Linked DNA regions of Homo sapiens. The protein of the gene in region 2 binds, or shares a complex with, the protein of the main gene of each other region. Each region holds a gene or a part of one and is shown on either strand. Other genes may lie near its edges.

Region 1 (7,835 bases), on a different chromosome or scaffold from region 2:
AGAGAAGGGGTTTCACCATGTTAGCCGGGATGGTCTCAATCTCCCGACCATGTAATCCACCTGCTACTCGGGAGGCTGAGGCAGAAGAATGGCGTGAACCCAGGAGGCGGAGCTTGCAGTGAACCGAGATGGCGCCACTGCACTCCAGCCTGGGCGACAGAGCGAGACTCCCTCTCAAAAAAAAAAAAAATGATGTAAGCAATGTGTGTGGGTATGCTATATCCATCCCATTTCCACTTCAGTTACCAAAGCACACTGCCCTTAATAGAACCTAGAAGATATTCTTCAGATGCTACTTTTCTTTTCTCTTTCAGATGGAGTCTCGCTGTCACCCGGGCTGGAGCGCAATGGCGCGATCTCAGCTCACTGCAACCTCCACCTCCCAGGTTCAAGTGATTCTCCTGCCTCAGCCTCACGAATAACTGAGACTACAGGCGCATACCACCACACCCGGCTAATTTTTGTATTTTTAGTAGAGACAGGGTTTCGTCATGTTGGCCAGGCTGGTCTCAAACTCCTGACCTCAGGTGATCCACTTGCCTTGGCCTCCCAAAGTGCTGGGATTACAGGTGTGAGCCACTACGCCCGGCCCAGATGCTATATTTCTAAATAGATAAAAAACCTAGCCAGGCGCGTTGGCTCATGCCTGTAATCCCAGCACTTCGGGAGGCCGAGGCAGGTGATCACCTGAGGTCAGGAGTTCAAGACCAGCCTGGTCAACATGGTGAAACCCTGTCTCTACTAAATATACAAAAATTAGCCGAGCGTGGTGGTAGGCGCCTGTAATCCCAGCTACTCACGAGGCTGAGGCAGGAGAATCGCTTGAACCCAGGAGGCAGAGGTTGCAGTGAGCCGAGATCGCGCCATTGCACTCCAGCCTGGGCAACAAGAGCAAAACTTCGTCTCAAAAAAAAAAAAAAAAAAAAAAAACTACTATGGTCTTTCCACACAACCCTGTCATATCATAATCCCCAGCACTGAAGCTCTTTGGGAAACCCAAGGTAGAAGAGACTTTACAAACCTTGGAGATGTGCGTTTATTTACAGACCAGGACCTCTTCCATCCATTCTCCCTCAATTTCCACTCCAACTACTCTCAGGTGAGATAAGCTTGAATTCTAACATTTAAAAAGAATTGGAAGGGTCTTTAAAAGATCACCTAGTCTAACTCTCATTTTTCAGGGAGGTTACTGATGTGACCAGAGTCACACAAGAACCTGGTAGCTGAGGTGGGTCTTAGGCATACAGCATCACTCTTAGGCATAGAGCATGCACTTAGGCATAGAGCATGCACTCTGGGTTTAAATACATAGACTTGAGTTAAAATACTGGCTCTCGCACTTACCAGATGAGTAACCTTGGACCTACTTATTTGACCTCTATGAACCAGAATTTCCTCACTTGAACAGAGTTCATACTAGTCAATGGCACACAGGTTAAAGGGTGTAGGGGTAAAGTGTAGTGATGCCTGCAATTCACCTTGAAATGTAAAAGTGGATTGGGAGAGGGACAGATGAAAAGATATATGATAAAGCAGCACAGTAAAATGTTAATTATAGAATTTAGGCACACAAGTATTTACAAGTCTTTCAACTTTTTTTGTGTCTGAAAACTGTCATACTAAAGCGGGGAAGGGACAACTAATACGTTGGATATGACAAGGCAGTGGACATATAGCTACTTAGCACAGTGCTTGGCACATGGAAAGCACTCAACCAATGTTAGCTACTTGCAGTACTAGCTGCTTAGTAAGCCAGGGTCAAACACTTCCTTTTTGGAAAGATGATGCTCAAAATGGAAACCTGAGGCTTTTCTTTGAGGCCTTTCCATTTAGAAAAATCAGGCTAAGAGGCAGTAGCTTAACTTTATATTAAGTGAAGATTTTTGTAGAAGCTAAGGCTCTCCAAAGGCCAAGGGGCATGGCTGTGACCTTAGAGAACAGCAGGCAGAGAGGGTGGCTGTATCATCATAGAGCACTGATTTGGGAGTCAGAAATACACGTGGGTGCAAACCCCAGGTTTACCGTTACTAAAACGAGTGTCAAGCATATACGTGAAGTGCCCTCTCCCCAACTCAATATTTTCACCTGCCAAAAAATAATATGTATGTGAAAGTACTTGGCATCACCAGCACTTAGAAAAAGGAGATTTAATTGGAATGGTCAAAAAGGATGCTTGGAGGGGTGGATAAACCAGATTGCTCTTCTCCATAATTCCCACTTCTCTCCCTCAGTTCCCGGATCCTGGGAACCAAAATGAGCTTTTAAAGTTTAGTCAATTCCCTACTTTAAACCGTCCCATAGCCTGCCACTGCATTCACAATAAAATCCAATTTCCTGACCGTGGCCGACAAAGCCCTGCAGTAACTAACCCCACCAAGATAAGATAATTATTTTTATTTATTGGTGTACACGTTTATCGTCTCTCACTACACTAAAATGTAAGCTCCTATCTTAATTCCCGCTGTATCCCAGTGTCGCGAATAGAGCCTGGTACGAATTAAGGGGACGGGGTTGTGTGGGTTTATATCAGCACTTGTCCATGAGTTGGCAAACCGTCAACTGCCCCCAGTGGATCGTCACTAGGTATCCTGGGGCGGCCCCTCACCCAGCTCCAGGGCGGCGCCCCTCCCCGAGCCCCTGGCCCATTTTCACTTCCCTGAGGAAATAATGGCGGGAGACCCCTGGCGCGCGCATCCCGCCCCGAGCCACCGACTTCAGCAGCTCTCTCGCCGCAGCAGCCCTGCTTGCAGCCCCCAACTCCCTGGTCCACTGGCCACACCTCTCGCGCGTTCTCCTGGCCCACAAGCCCTGAGGCCGCCTGCTTGGCCAAGCCGCTCTCGTCCAGCCCCAGCCCTTTCACGTGGCTGTGGGAGGCGATGCGCTGCGTCTTCGTAGTGCTCTTCACCTCCTCAATCTTCATTTTGCAGACGCCGGGAGCTAAAACCAGCGTGGAAAACCAGCAGCTAGGACAGTGCGCCCGGCGCCTGAGTTACCATGCGGCCGTTACTAGGGCAATTTGCAAAGGCCCGCCTAGACCGGCTTTCCATTGGTGGAAGCGGGAACACCTCCGCTCTCCATAGGCTCACGGCTGCGCCCATCGCGGCTGCTGCTAGAGCTCCGGTCACCCACTTCCGTCTGTGTCTCCGGGTTGGCTTCCCCCGTAGCCGGCGCTTCCTGCCGAGGCTGGGGTCGGGAGCACAGTGGGACCACGCCCCGGATTTGATCTAGGGCTGGGGCGTTGCACGAGGCAGTGGCCCCCGGGTACCACTCCTAATCCTTCCGTCCTATCCATTAGCACATTTGAACGTCATACTCTTACGCAAATCTCAAGTTATTATTTCCGTTTTGGAAACAGAAGAACTGAGGTTCAGAGCTTAAACTGGGATTGGTTACTAACCAATGTTTTCTGACTCCCATACCTTTGCATCTCCCTGGAAAGGCCCAGCTCAACCCACCACCGTTTCCGTGGAATTGTCTTCCCCTGCTTCTATCCTCCATCCTCCACCGAGAGATAAGGTTCCTGCTGAGTTCAGTTGACTGTAAATAACATTTTGCAGTTTTCAAAATTCCACAGCCCTGTAAGGTAGTGTAATTACGCATGCAGCTACAAACAAGCGGAAAGAGGCCCATCCGCCCAAGAAAGCATCACAAATAATCAGAACTAGAAATCTTCAGGCTTCAAAACCTATATAATAATGCTCATCACGTCCCATGACTCCAGCTGAGACAATCAGCCAGCAAATTGTCCCTTCAGGTTTCATAATGATATTAGCACAACCTGCACCACAATTGTACTTGCCATCCATCCATCCATCCGTTCAACAAACACGAGCCAGACACCACAATGCACTGGGGATACAGGGATAAAAGTCTTGATGCGTTTACTTCTTGCTTAGAAAACTTGCAACGTGAGATGTGCTGAGACAGGTACACCCAGGTGGCGAGAAGACCAGAGCAGAAGCCCCCGGAACAGCCTGGAGAGCCAGGGAAGGCATCATGAAGGTGATGTTGCCTTGGCTGAATTCCAACAAATAGGAGAGATTTCCTCAGAAGCAAATGGTATGACACCATTTTTACAGAAGAGGATACTAACATCCAGAGGAAGGGAAGGACTTGCCCAGAGTGCAGGAGAGTTTATGTTAGAATTGAGACAGACCTGAAATCAAATCCAATTACAGTAGTTCCACAGTCTCACACCGCCTTTTTTTTTTTTTTTTTTTTTTTTTTTGAGACGGAGTCTTGCTTTGTGGCCCAGGCGGGAGTGCAGTGGCGCAATCTCGGCTCACTGCAAGCTCCGCCTCCCGGGTTCACGCCATTCTCCTGCCTCAGCCTCCCGAGTAGCTGGGACTACAGGCGCCCACCATCACGCCCGGCTAATTTTTTTGTATTTTTAGTAGAGACGGGGTTTCACCGTGTTAGCCAGAATGGTCTCAATCTCCTGACCTCGTGATCCGCCCGCCTCGGCCTCCCAAAGTGCTGGGATTACAAGCGTGAGCCACCGCGCCCGGCCTCTCACACCTCCTTGTACATCTTGATTCTAACATTTGAATCTAGGTTTCTATATACTTTTTTCTTTTCTTTTGAATCTAGGTTTCTAATGATTTGCATAATTACTGGGTCAATGTTTTTCTCTCCCAGTAAACTGCAGGCCTTTTGAGGGTGTAGACCACATTTGATTGTTTACCATTTTAACCTAAGTGCCTGGCACACAGCCTACAACACAGCTCACAATTAAGGCTTCTCATGAATTCAATTAAGGTTCTAGACCACACACAAACACATACACTTGAATTCATCAGTTTTGCTGCATGTATTTTACACGTTGGCTTTTATAGGACTTGGTAATGATTTCCATCAGTGAATGGAATCTTTTGGCATTTTCAGGGCCTAAAAGAACAGAGGCCAGGCCTTGGAAGGCTGAGGTTGTTACTAGGGCATGTGGTTCATCAGCACTAGAGACAGCACCCCACAAAGTTGCTTAGCCCCTCATTGACTTGTTCCTGGTCATTACTCTTAGAAAAGAAGCAATTCCTTTCTCTATATGGAGAAGGAAACTTTTCCACCAACTAGTAGTCAAAGTGAGGCATTCTATGGGACTGACTTCTTTGTGTATTGTCCAATTAAGGAAAAAGACTTTTTTTACACTTATTATTTCAGCCCTAGTCTTTGTATCTTTTGGCACAGAAAGAAGGATTTCCTTCTAGTCCAAAAAGAGAAAGGGAGAATCAGGATTTTAGAGCACAGAGGAATATCCCCTGGATTACTTGGTCTAGTGGTTTTCAAACCACATTCCCAGCAGTTGTGGAATCCTTTTGTGGCCAGTACGGGTGGGGACAGGGAATGCTGAGAGTGTAGGATACCAGCTCCATGCCCCCACTTCCACCAGAGTTGTTCCTTTGTGTGTGTGTGTGTGTGTGTGTGTGTGTGTGTGCTAAATAACAGTTCAAACATCACTGATGGGCCAGGGGCGGTGGTACACGCCTGTAATCCCAGCACTCTGGGAGGCCGAGGCAGGTGGATCACCTGAGGTCAGGAGTTCGAAACCAGCCCGGCCAATATGGCAAAACCCCATCTCTACTAAAAATACAAAAATTACCTGGGCGTGATGGCAGGCGCCTGTAACCCCAGCTACTCAGGAGGCTGAGGCACGAGAATCGCTTGAACTCAGGAGGTGGAGGTTGCAGTGAGCCGAGATCGTGCCATTGCACTCCAACCTGGGCAACAGAGCAAGACTCATCTCAAAAAAAAAAAAAAAGGTCATTGATCTGGCCTAGCATTCTCATTTTACATGTGACGGAACTGAGGCCCCAGGAAGGGACAGGGTTTGTCCAAGGTCACAAATTGAGCAAATGCCTGACACAGATCCAGTGTGTAAAGATGCTGGACCTGGCTGCAAAGTCAGACAATTTCTTTCATTTCAACAGAAAACAATGTGGCAGGCCAGTATCCAAGCTACACAAGTCCAATAAACAGCAAGTGAGGCCTGCTGCAGTGGACAGGGTTATTCCTGACCAGCGTCCATCCCACTTCTGCGCACCACCACTCTCGTTTTCCTTCAGGAAATGACCGTTCTCCCACTTTGAGTCTGCGTAGTTTGGGCGAACTGACCCCACACCCCATGTTTGTTTCAGTGGTAAACACGTGGCCCTGGCCTGACCTATCAGTATCCCATCCTCTCAGACACTGTAATTGGCTCAGAAATGTGAGCAGCTAGTTCAATGACAGTCAGTCCTGGCAATTTACTGGACATATCAGGAGAGAAAATGTAGGTAATGGATCTGCAGGCTGGTCTTCTTTGTTACTTCATGGGGAGACTCTACCTGAGAATGAAGCCAAGACAGAGGAAAGGAAAGCTGACAGAAAGAGATTCCCGATGAAATCCTTTATATCCCTGCATCATCCTCGCCTTACTTGCAGTGTAACATGGCATTTACTTTGGGGCTTAAGATGTTTGAGTTAGATTTCTATCTGTGGGTACTGAAAATCCATATCAATGTAGTGACACATATGTAAGTAATTGTGTGGACTACTACATTCCAGAATTGTGCTGTGACAGCCCTAGACCTGCCAGCTCTCATTCCCTCACTCCCACGACCCTCTCATTCCCTTACTCCCACGACCTTTGCTCTTTCACCTCCAGGCCTTTGACCTCTCTTTCTCCAGCCCAAGCTTGATTATCTCAATCACTTGTTTCCTGACCCTTCTGCTCCCTCCTTACCTTGACTTCTATCACACCTGAACTTTGAACCCACAAGCCCAGGTCAAGCCTCCCTCTGCCTTCTTCACTGCCTCCTGAGGGCTACTGTGTGTGGCAGGATGCAACTACCCAGTGGTGCCCTGTAACCACTGCACAGTCATGGTCTCCAGCCTCAACTGGAGCAACCCAAGTAATGATTAAATGTTGTTATTTGGCCAGGTGCAGTGGCTCACGCCTGTAATCCCAACACTTTGGGAGGCCGAGGTGGGCAGATCACTTGAGGTCAGGAGTTCGAGACCAGCCTGGCCAACATGGTGAAACCCCATCTCTACTAAAAATACAAAAATTAGCCAGGCATGGCAGCACACACCTGTAGTCCCAGCTACTCGGGAGGCTGAGGCAGAAGAATTGCTTGAACCCAGAAGGCAGAGGTTGCAGTGAGCCGAGATTGCGCCACTGCACTCCAGCCTGGGCGACAGAGTGAGACCCTGTCTCAAAAATAATAAATACATACATACATACATACATACATACATACATACATACATACATAAATACATAAACGTTGTGTTAGTTTTTTGGGGGGCTTCAAGTGATCCTCCCATCTCAGCCTCCCGAGTAGCTGGGCATGCGCCACCACACCCAGCTAATTTTTTCTATTTTTTTGTAAAGACAGGGGTCTTGCTGTGTTGGCTAAGCTGGTCTTGAATTCCTGAACTCAAGCAATCCTCCTGCCTTGACCTCCCAAAATGCTGGGATTACAGGCATTAGCCATAGCACCCAGCAGTAAATGTTACATTAGTTAAAAGATTAGTTCAGCTGCAGTAACAGAGAGATCTAAAATAACAGTGGATCAAACAAGAGAGAAGTCACTTTATCTCACAGAAAGTCCAAGCAGGCATGCCAGGAGGTGGGCTGGCTTTACAATCAGTAAGGGCCTATGGTCCTTCTATGATGTGGCTCTGCCACTCCCCACACACATTGTCTATCGTGTGGTCCAAGATAGCTGCTCAAACTCCTCCCAAAAGGGCTGAATTTGCACCAACTAGAAGGAAAAAAGGGGAAGAAGAGGACATACTTCTTCCCTTTAACCTTGATATTGAAGTTGCACCATCATTTCTACTCATATCCCAGGGGC
Region 2 (7,021 bases):
ACCTGTAATCTCAGCTACTCGGGAGGCTGAGGCAGGACAATCACTTGAACCTGGGAGGCGGAGGTTGCAGTGAGCTGAGATTGTGCCATCGCACTCCAGCCTGGGTGACAGAGCAAGACTCCGTCTCAAAAAAAAAAAAAGAGTACTCTGGAAACCCTTCCAATGATTGAACCTCTCTTGCACTTGAACTGTTTGATAATACTGCTTTCTCTCCTTTGAGCCAGTCTTCCAACGCCTCAACCCCTTTACTTTCTTTTTCTTTTTTGAGACAGAGTCTTGCTCTGTCGCCAGGTTGGAGTACAGTGGCACAATCTCGGCTCCCTGCAACCTCCCCCTCCCAGGTTCAAGCAATTCTCCTGCCTCAGCCTCCTGAGTAGCAGGGACTATAGGCACGTGCCACCATGCCCAGCTAATATTTGTATTTTTAGTAGAGACGGGGTTTCACCATGTTGACCAGGATGGTCTGGAACTCCTGACCTCGTGATCCGCCCACCTCAGCCTCCCAAAGTGCTGGGATTACAGGCGTGAGCCACCACGCCTGGCCCAACCCCTCTACTTTCAAACACTTGCCTACACCCTCTGGAACTCGTGCTCTGTAATCTGCCAACTCATCTATATCCTCAAGCTCCTCACTCAGCATTCCTTCCATGACTTGCCTTAACAGAAACCTGGTCATTCACTGAGGCCACCACTCCTCTCTGCAGACCTCTGGTGGAGGTTGCTCATTCTCTTACATCCCTACAGGATATACCTATGTCCTACTGGGCCCCACCCTGTAGCTTTCAGAGCACTGCTTTTCTGCCTACCAGCAAACTCCCTTCTCTTTTGAGACCTGTGCCAAGAGTCTAGATTAACTTCTCTCCTTCCTAGTCATGGTCACTCCTTCATTCACTGAAGACTTTGGCAGTGGTTTCCACTCTTCGTCTCTACCCCAATTCCCATCATCTTAGGGTCACCCTGGTGACTTCGAAGTGCACATGGGTAGCCCCTTCAACACTGCATGGCCACAGTTTATCACCTCATCTCTAACAACCTTCTTTTCCATGTCACTTTACTTTTTTTTTTTTTTTGAGTCTCACTCTGTTGCCCAGGCTGGAGTGTAGCGACACGATCTCCACTCACTGCAACCTCCGCCTCCCGGGTTCAAGTGATTCTCCTCAGTGATTCTCAGCCCCCCGAGTAGCCAGGACTACAGGCACGCACCACCATGCCTGGCTAATTTTTTGTATGTTTAGTAGAGACGGGGTTTCACCATGTTGGCCAGGCTGGTCTCGAACTCCTTACCTTGTGATCCGCCTGCCTCGGCCTCCCAAAGTGCTGGGATTACAGATGTGAGCCACCGCGCCCAGTCACATTTTCCTTTTTAAATCATGCTTAGGTTGCTCACTGTATCATTTCAATCACTTCAGTCACTCTCCTGTCAATAATTCCCTTGCCCTGATCTGGACTGCTGAGTGCTACTGGAGAAAAATAACAGCACAGACTGGAACCACCATAAATTCATGGTCCTAGCCTTCAGCAGGTCCCTCAATACTGCTCAATATCCCACATCAATAACTATTTAAATGCTCCTCAGTCTCCTCAAGCTTCCAGCTGTATCCTTAATGTTTGACAGATGGTGCTGCATAATGAAAAAGACATCAGGTGAGAACCTCCGCCATGCCCTCCCTCTGGATTACAAACCTACAACTGTAAGCCACATTTTTAAACAGAGACAGGGTCTCACTATGTTGCCCAGGCTGGTCTTGAACTCCTGGGCTCAAGCGATCCTCCTTCCTTGGCCTCCCAAAGTGCTGGGATTACAGGCATGAGCCACTGCACTCAGCTAAGCCACACTTTCTTTCTTTTTTTTTGAGACAGAGTTTCACTCTTGTTACCCAGGCTGGAGTGCAATGGCACGATCTCGGCTCACCGCAACCCCCGCCTCCCGGGTTCAAGTGATTCTCCTGCCTCAGCCTCCCAAGTAGCTGGGATTACAGGCATGTGCCACCACACTCAGCTAATATTTTGTATTTTTAGTAGAGACAGGGTTTCTCCATGTTGGTCAGGCTGGTCTCGAACTCCTGACCTCAGATGATCCACCCGCCGCAGCCTTCCAAAGTGCTGGGATTACAGGTGTGAGCCACGGCGCCCGGCCACCACACTTTCTTTCTCCCTTCCCCCATCTGAAGCCAATTCCTCCACCATGCTGCTCTGGTTCCCAGCCTTGCCTCCCATCTCCAAAAACCTACACTATTAATAACCGTTTTTTCTTCTCTTTCTTTAAACTCAGTTCTTTCTCATGAAAGACATAATTTCTAATATCTTCGAATAAAATAAAAACAACTTTACCTTAATCTCACACCCCTCTGTAGCTTCCATTCCCTCTTCTACCCTTCATGGCCAAGCTTGAAAAGTTTTGCTCCCCAATATACTTTGATTCGACTTGGTCCCCAAAAAGTGCTAAGGTAATGTCTGACCTCTATCTCACCAAAACCAATGGGCACTTCTCAGTTCTACTAATCATCGTCTCAGCAGCAATTACTCTCTTGAGACATTCTCTTTCCTGGCATTTTTAACACAAACTCTCCTGGGTTTCTCCAACTCGTTGGTCACTTCCAGGCTCTTTTCAAAGCTCCTCCTCTTGTATGAAACTATCACATTTTAGTGTCTGCAGGACTCTATCAGGCCTCTGTTTTCTCACTCTGAGCTTTCTCCCTACATGCTCAGATGCACTCCAATATTGTCAATTACCACCCATATTCTAAAGACTTCCAAATTTGTATTTTCAGCCCAGATCTCTTATTGGAACACCAGATTTGCATATTTAACTGACCTCTCATCACTGCATGAATTGCTCACAAACTCCTTAAATTCAACATGTTCAAAAATAAATTTGTTTTTTCCCCACTGAACTTGCTCCTCCTTCAGGGTCTCCTAAGCCAGTTACTGATGTTGAAAACCTGGGAATTGCCGCGGGGTGGCCCAAGCCTGTAATCCCAGCACTTTGGGAGGGTGAGGCGGGTGGATCACCTGAGGTCAGGAGTTCAAGACCAGCCTGGCCAACATGGTGAAACCCCATCTCAACTAAAAATACAAAAAAATTAGCTGGGCATGGTGGCGGGCACCTGTAATCCCAGCTACTTGGGAGGCTGAGGCAAGAGAATCTCCAGCTCAGGAGGCGGAGCTTGCAGTGAGCCGAGATCATACCACTGCACTCCAGCCTGGGCGACAGAGTAAGACTCTGTCTCAAAAAAAAAAAAAAAAAAAAAAAGAAAGGAAAACCTGGGAGTCACTCTCCTTACAGTGGTCCAAACCAATCGCTCTGTAGCCCTGGCTGGAGTGCAGTGGTGTGATCTCGGCTCATTGCAACTTCCACCTCCCAGGTTCAAATGATTCTCTTGCCTCAGCCTCCCAAGTACCTGGGATTACAGACATGCGCCACCATGCCCAGCTAATTTTTGTATTTTTGGTAGAGACAGGGTTTCACCATGTTGGCCAGGCTGGTCTGGAACTCCCAACTGCAAGTGATCCACCCACCTTGGCCTCCCAAAGTGCCGGGATTACAGGTATGAGCCACTGCGCTTGGCCCAAACTGAAGAGATTTTTAAAGCAATACCATAAAATGAAGAGATTTTTAAAGCAATTTATCTCATGAAGGACTAATCTGCTGACTTCACGTTCTCATGATTATCATTAAAGTCAACATTATCACCCCCTGCTTTTTTTTTTTTTAAGAGATGGGGTTTCACTATGTTGTCCAGGCTGGTTATGAACTCCTGGCCTCAAGTGATCCTCCTGCCTAAATTTCCTGAGTCATTAGGTATATACCCCATTTTATAAACAAGAAAAGCAAAATGTGAATAAGTAATTTACCTACAGACTTAAAGCAAATGAATAGCAGAACGAGGATTTGACCTCAGTTCTATACAACTCTTATTTTACACCAAAGTACCTTAGCTTGTTCTTCAGAGTGCTCATAACTGCCTAGACTCTTGCACCTAATTACCTACTCTCCGCCATTTCTTCCTTCTGATTCCATCATCCCAAATTTCCATCTCTCCAGTTCTTTGGTCCTCCAGGTCTCATGGTTTTTCTCATGCCCCTCAGCCCCTCTACTCACTTTTTCTGAAACCACAGACTTACCCAGTGACCGTAAATTAAGCTCTTCTGTGATCTTGGCCTCCCGGAGCAGTTCCTCCTGGGTTAGTGGCCGCTCACAGTGGGGCCCCTTTCGCCGTCTTGACTGGCCCTGCCTCTCCTGTACCCGAAGGAACGTTTGTCGTGTATGCTCAGCTGTAGACTGACGCATAGACTTCCGACCTGGAAGAGAGTGAGATAAGAAGAAATCTTTGAATTCATGTCCACATATTTTATTTATTTATTTTGAAATGTTGTACTTGGAAATAATTTTTTTTTCTTTTTTTTTTTTTGAGATGGAATCTCGCTCTGTCGCCCAGGCTGGAGTACAGTGGCACGATCTCGGCTCACTCCAACCTCTGCTTCCTGGGTTCAAACAATTCTCCTGCCTCAGACTCCCGAGTAGCTGGGAGTACAGGTGCATGCCACCACATCCAGCTAATTTTTTGTATTTTTAGTAGAGATGGGGTTTCATCATGTTAGCCAGGATGGTCTTGAACTACTGACCTCGTGATCTGCCTGCCTCGGCCTCCCAAAATGCTGGGATTACAGGCATGAGCAACCGTGCCTGGCCTGAAATAATTTCAAACCTACGAAGTTGCAAGAATAGTACAAGGAATACTCATGTATCTTTTACCCCATCACCTATTGGTAATATTTTGGCCCTTTTGCATTTTGTTATGTGTGGTTTTTTTCTGAATGATCTAAATTAGGTAACTAAAGTTGTACACATCATGGCCTTTATCCCTAAATATTTCAGTGTGTATTTCCTAAGAATGAGGATTTTCCTACCCATAGTAAGTTATCAACATCAGTAAATTTTTTCTTCTTTTTATTACTTTTTTCTGGTGACAGAGTTTTGCTCTTGTTGCCCAGGCTGGAGTGCAATGGTGTAACCTCCACCTCCCAGGTTCAAGCAATTCTCCTGCCTCAGCCTCCCAAGTAGCTGGGATTACAGGGGCCCACCACCACACCTGGTTAATTTTTGTATTTTTAGTAGAGACGGAATTTCACCATGTTGGCCAGGCTGGTATCGAACTCCTGACCTCAGGTGATCTACCCGCCTAGGCCTCCCAAAGTGCTGGGATTCTAGGAGTGAGCCACCGCACCCAGCAACATCAGTAAATTTAACACTGATATGATACTTTATTATTATATTCCAATTTTGCCAATTGACCCTAACATCCCTACTCACTGTCAGAGCCGTCATCTTGTAGTTCTAATGGCAGTAGTGCCTTCTCTTCTCGCGCCTTCTGAGAGCTACCAGCCGGGGTGTTGACCTTTCGAGGCCTTAAGCTCTTGAGAGGTTCCTGAGGACAGATTGGAATCAGATACTGGGGAACAGAAGAAGTCAGGAGAAATATGAGGATCTCAATGAGAGAAAACTAGCATTGCCAGAAATGGAAGTGGCATAGGGAGTACTGGGACCTGATGAAAGAGAGAATAGGAATTGAGGAAATCCAAGACAACTAGGACTCCCCCTGTACCTTATAGGCCTTGGTGACTACTCGGCGCTTCCTTCTTGGCTCTTCTGCTTCTCCATCACTGGATGGTTCATCCCCTTCATCAATGTCAAAGTCAGAGTCCACTTCGTCCTCTGTGTCTGACTGGTCCCCTTGATACTCATCATCTCCGGATTCCTAAGGACACAGGGAGATAAGGGTTGGCTGGCAATGGAAGCCTTAATGCCCCTTCAGGAGGAACAGAATCTCTCGACTTTCTTGATAAGGGCTGCCCTACTCTCCTTCCTAATCCAGCCCTTCATTTTCCTCAGGCAAGAAAACTTTCTAGCTAATGGCCTTTGGCTCCAGTACCACCTCCTTCCAACATTAATTGATAGCCCTTTACCTGCAACACACTGTTAAGTACTGGGGAACAAAAGGATATGGTTTGGTCTCTACCTTCAGGGGCTTACAGTAAAGGGGAGGACATAATCTTACTTTTTTTTTTTTGAGATGTGGATCTCGAACAGGCTTGGTGGCTCACGCCTGTAATCCCAGCACTTTGGGAGGCCGAGGTGGGCAGATCACTTGAGGCCAGGAGTTCGAGACCAGCCTGGCCAACATGGTGAAACTCTGTCTCTACTAAAAATACAAAAATTAGCTGGGCATGGTGACGCACACCTGTAGTCCCAGCTACTTGGGAGGTTGAGGCAGGAGAACTGCTTGAACCCAGGAGGCATAGGTTGCAGTGAGCTGAGATAGTGCCACTGCACTCCAGCCTGGGCGACAGGGCGAGACACAGTCTCAAAAAGAAAAAAAAAAAAAAGGATGAAGAGGACTTAAACTATGATTGAAAACACTGTTAGTATTTAGACAGCCAAGAGGGAGGAAGGAATCATGGGCAGATGAAATAGCAGAAACAAAGGCACAGAAATGGTAATGTGTATAGCATGTTTATGGAATAAGGATTTAGATCTAAGTAAAACTTTTCTCTGTCAAGAAACCTTGTTAGCCAACTGCATTTGGCTCCAGCACTGCCTCCTTCCAACACTGATTGCACTGTAGGACTGTATGATTTGAAAAGAAGGTTGCATTCCATTTATGGAGAAACTTAAATGTCACACTAATAAACACGCTTTTAACCTGCAGGCCAGTGATTCTCAATCCCCTCCATCTCCTTATTTTCCCTACCATTGATAATCATTGTTGAGGTAAACTAAAGTTACTGAGAGAAATATGTGTCATTCCTCAGGCGTGTTGGGACAGAAAAACAGCTGAGTACTGCTACTATGGATAATGGAGGGCCACTGAAGATTTAGGGGAGGGGTAATGGTATGTACAATGGGTATTTCAGAAAGCTCTGGGGGCAGTTAGATGGCCTGGAGTAGAGAACGTGAAGTACAGCCTAGACCTCAGGTGAACTGGTTAGGGCTAGAATGGCAGCCATATTATAAAGAAAA

Evidence for each region. The genes of interacting proteins can lie anywhere in the genome.
Region 1: the proteins of VPS72 (region 2) and RUVBL1 are in contact, whole or in part, in a cryo-EM structure (PDB 9CA9), measured with the Homo sapiens proteins. Residues at the interface, in NP_005988.1 of Homo sapiens: Ile212, His215, Arg263, Thr264, Phe265, Ile266, Thr267, Phe268, Ser269, Asp271, Phe274, Trp277, Phe278, Gln280, Gly281, Arg282, Pro283, Pro284, Lys285, Val286, Pro287, Arg289, Glu290, Ala299, Leu300, Tyr301, Arg302, Pro309; in NP_003698.1 of Homo sapiens: Thr136, Leu138, Pro140, Glu142, Met147, Tyr150, Gly151, Lys152, Thr153, Ile154, Ser155, His156, Val157, Asp173, Pro174, Phe177, Glu178, Gln181, Ala187, Gly188, Arg205, Thr208, Tyr209, Ala210, Thr211, Glu212, Phe213.

Annotation. Positions count from the first base shown.
Region 1 is NC_000003.12:128,120,805-128,128,639, forward strand, and holds the start of RUVBL1 (ruvB-like 1), read right to left. Parts: upstream 3,009-7,835; 5' UTR 2,921-3,008; coding exon 2,780-2,920; intron 1-2,779. UniProt on the Homo sapiens protein: Possesses single-stranded DNA-stimulated ATPase and ATP-dependent DNA helicase (3' to 5') activity; hexamerization is thought to be critical for ATP hydrolysis and adjacent subunits in the ring-like structure contribute to the ATPase activity.
Region 2 is NC_000001.11:151,180,192-151,187,212, forward strand, and holds part of VPS72 (vacuolar protein sorting-associated protein 72 homolog), read right to left. Parts: intron 5,760-7,021; coding exon 5,607-5,759; intron 5,430-5,606; coding exon 5,315-5,429; intron 4,303-5,314; coding exon 4,126-4,302; intron 1-4,125. UniProt on the Homo sapiens protein: Deposition-and-exchange histone chaperone specific for H2AZ1, specifically chaperones H2AZ1 and deposits it into nucleosomes.